Regions from separate parts of the Homo sapiens genome. Here region 2 is linked to region 1. The links come from fine-mapping of genetic effects on gene expression. Tissue or cell type: naive CD4 T cells. Region 1 holds a variant in brackets; the other region holds the start of a gene. All regions are shown on one strand. Distances are from middle to middle.

Region 1 (2,758 bases):
CTCTATATCTTGAAGACACTGTCCTTTCTGCATTGTATGATCTTGGTCCTCTTGTTGAAGACCATTCGACTACATTTTCCTGAGTTTATTTCTGATCTCTTTATTTTGTTTTATTGGTCTATATGTTTGCCTTTATGCCAGTACCATACTCTGTTGGTTACTATCAATTTATAATTAGTTTTGAAATCAGAAATTGTGAGATCTCCAAATTTGTTCTTCTGTTTCAAGATTGTTTTGGCTATTTTGCTTTTCTCTGAGATTCCATAGGAATTTTGTTTTTGTTTTATTGAGATAGTCTCACTCAACTCACAATTGCCCAGGCTGGAGTGCACTGGCACCATCCTGGTTCACTGCAACCTCAGCCTCCCAGGTTCAAGTGATTCCCCTGCCTTAGCCTCCCAAGTAGCTGGGATTACAGGCATGCGCCACCACACCCAGCTAATTTTTGTATTTTTAGTAGAGGTGGGGTTTCACCATGTTGGCTAGGCTGGTCTCGAACTCCTGACCTCAAGAGATCCACCTGCCTTGGCCTCCCAAAGTGCTGGGATTACAGGTGTGAGCCACTGCACTGGGCCCAGATTCCATAGGAATTTTAAGGTAGTTTTTCCTATTTCTATAAAATGCTATTGAAATTTTGATAGGGATTGCATTTAATCTATAGGTTTTAAATAGTATGAGAATCTTAGCAATATTAAATCTTGAAATTCAGGAACACAAGATTGCTTTCATTTATTTGTGTTTTGTTAAATTTGGCTCAACGTTATGAAATTTTGAGTATACAAGCCTTTTGCCTCCTTGGTTAAGTTTATTCTTAAATATTTTATTTCTTTTAGTGCTTTTTTTTTCGATATATAGGTAAGCCCAGCTGTGTGATGCTTTCATAATGGGATCGTTTTCTTCTTTTTCAGATTTTTTTTTTTTTTTTGAGACAGAGTCTCGCTTTGCCGCCCATGCTGGAGTGCAGTGGCATGATCTCGGCTCACTGCAAGCTCTGCCTCTTGGGTTCACGCCATTCTCCTGCCTCAGCCTCCCGAGCAGCTGGGACTACAGGCACACACCACCACGCCCAGATAATTTTTCGTACTTTTAGTAGAGACAGGGTTTCACCCTGTTAGCCAGGATGGTCTTGATCTCCTGACCTCATGATCCACCTGCCTCAGCCTCCCAAAGTGCTGGGATTACAGGCGTGAGCCACTGTGCCTGGCTTTTTTTTTTTTTTTTTTTTTT[TTG/G]TGACAGAGTCTCACTCTGTCTTGCTCAGGCTGGAGTACAATGGCACCATCTTGGCTCACCACAACCTCTGCCTCCCAGGTTTAAGCAATTTTCCTGCCTCAGCCTCCTGAGTAGCTGGCATTACAGGTATGCACCACCATGCGTGGCTAATTTTTGTATTTTTAGTAGAGACGGGGTTTCACCATGTTGGTCAGGCTGGTCTCAAACTCCTGACCTCATGATCCGCCGCCTCAGCCTCCCAAAGTGCTGGAATTACAGACATGAGCCACTGCACCTGGCTACTCAGATTGTTAATTGTTAATGTATAGAAACACATTTGATCTTTGTATGCTGATTTTTTTTAAAATCCTGTAACTTTGATGAATTTGTTCATTATTTCTAATAGCTTTGTTTAGGTTTTCCTATTTATGAGACCACATCATCCATAAACAGATAATTTTACTTCTTCCTTTCCAATTTGGATGCCTTTTTTCTTTTTCTTGTCTAATTGCTCTGGCTCGGGCTTCCAGTCTATCTTGGAATAGAAGTGGCAAGAGTGGACATCCTCGCTTTTCCTTACCTGAGAGGAAAAGCTTTTAGTTTTTCACTGTTGAGTATGATGTTAGCTGTGTATTTTTTTTTTTTTTTTTTTGAGACAGAGTCTTGCTCTGTTGCCCAGGATGGAGTGCAGTGGTGCGATCTGGGCTCACCTAACCTCTGCCTCCCAGGTTCAAGTGATTCTCCTGCCTCAGCCTCCTTAGTAGTTGGGACTACAGGCACGCACCACCATGCCTGTCTAATTTTTTTGTATTTTCAGTAGAGACAGGGTTTCACTATGTTGGCCAGGCTGGTCTCAAACTCCTGACCTCATGGTCCACCCACCTCAGTCTCCCGAAGTTTCGGGATTAGAGATATGAGCCACTGCGCCTGGCCTAGCTGTGGATTTTTCGTATACAATCTTATGCTGAGGTAGTTATTTCCATACATACCCATAAAATAGCCTATTTTATTACAAATGAATTATATATAACCTTAAAATCTCTTCAATAATCATCCCTCTTCTCAGTCTTCTACCTTCTTTTGATGTAATAACGTGAAAATACATCATAACGTAACAAAGTGTATGTGGCTTTAGTTTTGTACAATAAAAATATATTTGAAAAAATTATTATCCTTTCCTTGTGTTACTTTATCAAATTGCATTATGTCCCCATTATACAAGTTTTCAGTAATTTTCCATCTTCTTCATTTGCACTTGAAGGTGTTGGAATGACATTAGGTGCACAACATAGATCTAGTTCATAGCTTATGTCTACAAACATACTAGTTTTGTACTTCTTACAGGTATGTAGTAGACATTTTTTTTTTTTTTTGGAGATGGAGTTTCACTCTTGTCGCTCAGGCTGGAGTTCAGTAGTGCCATCTCAGCTCACTGCAACCTCCACCTCCCGGGTTCAAGCAATTCTCATGCCTCAGCCTCCCAAGTAGCTAGGATTACAGGTGCCCGCCACCACGCCTGGCTAATTTTTGTATTTTTAGTAGAGATGGA
Region 2 (2,536 bases), 70 kb before region 1:
GTTTAATTTAGAATTCCTTTCTCGGCTTTCCCTTTTTGTACGGCTAAAACTGAGAATGATCCACTGCATAGAGATGGAAAATAAGTGAGATAAGGTTGTGACATTTTAATAGCAACTGCTTAATCACATAAATTTTTCGTAATCTTAACTTTCAGCCTCTGTATTGTAACTTCTGTCAGCTAAGACTTTTCTGAGAATAACTCAACAGTTTCAAAATGTATTGTCCCATTCAAATCTTTGTCAAGAGCAGTACTACCTCTCTCACGATGTTGTTTCACATCTGAAAGTTAAATAATGCACAAATATCACTGCATCCTCCCAAACCAAAGGGAAAGGGGAGCATCTGCCAGCTCCACAAGATCCCAATTTGAAGTCCCCAAAGCTTTCCTCCAACTATATTCTAACTAGTCACAGACACTAAATCGTAGAACAGAAATGCACCTTTGAAAATTTTCAGTTCAACACCTCCATTGTACATATGGGGAAATCAGGACATAGGTTGTCAGATTTGACACCAACAAACAACACTGTGGACAAGACAAATCTCCAATCTCCAGGATCTATTGGTATACCCAAATAGCTTCGCCTTCCTTCAAAATTTTACCACCTTATCACTTGACGTTAGGAGTTCGAGGCCAGCCTCACCAATACCCATGTCTACTAAAAACACAAAAAAATAGCTGGGCATAGTGTAATCCCAGCTACAGGTAAAGACATGAGAATCGCTTGAACCTGGGAAGCAGAGGTTGCAGTGAGCCGAGATCGCCCCACTGCACTCCAGCCTGGGTGACAGAGCGAGACTCCGTCTCAAAAAAACACAAAACTACCACCTTAGCCCCCAACCTACTTTTCCACGCATCTTTCTCGTTATCCTTTAAACAGATTATTTCTCAGCCAAACAAACGTCGCTCTTTTTCTAGGTACAGCTTTCTTCTTGCTTCCACACCTATGTCAGAACAGTTATAGCCTCTTTATCCTCCCTTACCACTTAAATCCTACCCATCCTTTAGATTTATCCCCGTTTTCCAAACAATTCCTATTGGCTCAAACATTCTGCTTCGGAAGCCCTATTCTGACTTGGCAGGCCTATGGCAGTCTGTTAACTTGACTTTCCGCTTCGTGAGAGGCTTAGGCTCGGATAACCCGTTAGTAACCATGCAGAGGTGAGGACCCAAAGACAGGAACACTAGAAAGCAGAAACTATCCTAAGAGCCCACCGAATTTCCGCTTACATGAGTAACCGAGACAACCGTCAGATGCGCGTGCGCACAGGCCCCGTTCCCAGAGCTCCCCTCGCCCTACGAGGGCCCGGCGGGCCAAAACAGAGGCCCGCCCCGCCCCACCCCACGCCTCACCGCGAAGTAGCCCAGCCCCAGGACTGTGACCAGAGAGGGCAAGGGTCTTGCTGGACGGAAATAGGCGGTAGCCGCATTGCTGGCCTCCGACTTCACCATCCTCTTGAAAAACCCAGACACAGAGTTGGCTGGGAGCTCCCCAGCCGTCCCCGCCCCCATATAAGAAAAGCCTGGCTAGCCGGTTTCTCAGGGCCCTGGGCGCCCGCCCAAGACCCTGGCGGACCAGTATGCTTGCTCTCATTGCGGAGTCTGGTCCCCTCCCCTCCGCTCCTAGCGCGCGGGAGTCGGGATTGTGCTTGCACGACTTCCCCCGGCCCGCGGCCTGTGAGCCCAGGTCCTGGGGTGAACCGAGCGCTCGCTCGTTCGTCAGACCGTAGCGCTCCAGCGGCTGTCCTTACTGTGTAGTAGCCAAAGCTGAGGGTGATGACTGTGAACCAGAACAGACTGCCTCGCTGAAAGTAGGTCGCGCCGGCTGCCGTAGCCATGGCTGCAACACCTCCCCGGGAGCGCGCTTCAGGACACCGTCGAGCGCGAGCGCGGAGGCAGGGCCGGGGCCGGCCCGCGCTCCCTCGCCATCCCCGCAGGGAGAAGATGGTGCTGGTTGGGAAGTCCCTGAGAGCGAGTCTCCCTGTCTGGCCCCAGTACAGGGGCCTTGGAATCACACCTGGGCTCAGGTCTGGAGGGCTGGTCATCATCTTGTAGGGGAGACACTCCTGTCACTTTTCTGGGTTTAAGATAAAGATGTTCGGGCTGGCGCGGTGGCGTGTCCCTGTAATCTCAGCACGTTGGGAGGCTGAGGTAGAAAGATCCCTTGAGCCCAGGAGTTTGAGACCAGCCCGGGTAACATAGCTAGACTCTGTCTCGAATGAATGAATGAATGAATGAGGTGTTGGAATAAATTCCAGCAATTTGGGAGGCCGAGTCGGGCAGATCACTTGAGGTCAGGAGTTTGAGACCAGCGTGGTCAACATGGTGAAACCCCGTCTGTACTAAAAATACAAAAAATTTGCTGGGCGCGGTGGTGCCTGCCTGTAGTCCCAGCAACTCCAGAGGCTGAGACAAGACTCTCTTGAACCTGAGAGGTGCAGGTTGCAGTGGGCCCAGATCACGCCACTGCACTCCAGCCTGGGCAACACAGCAAGACCCTGTCTCAAAAAAAAAAAAAAAAGATGGTGTTTTAC

Evidence for each region. PIP is the estimated chance that this variant, and not a neighbour inherited with it, causes the effect.
Region 2: it holds the start of TMEM254-AS1, and the variant in region 1 is fine-mapped to the expression of TMEM254-AS1 in naive CD4 T cells (Schmiedel 2018, PIP 0.95).

The regions. Positions count from the first base shown.
Region 1 is chr10:80,007,913-80,010,670 of GRCh38, reverse strand. No RefSeq gene overlaps it. Among named protein-coding and RNA genes, the nearest start is that of SFTPD, 60 kb to the right of the region's middle. The variant TTG/G (reference allele first, on the strand shown) is at 1,228.
Region 2 is chr10:80,078,004-80,080,539 of GRCh38, reverse strand. It overlaps TMEM254-AS1 (TMEM254 antisense RNA 1), which reads left to right and starts at 1,347. Exons shown (of 4, transcript NR_027432.1): 1 at 1,347-1,813. It overlaps TMEM254 (transmembrane protein 254), which reads right to left and starts at 1,875. Exons shown (of 4, transcript NM_025125.4): 1 at 1,754-1,875. The coding sequence starts at 1,840.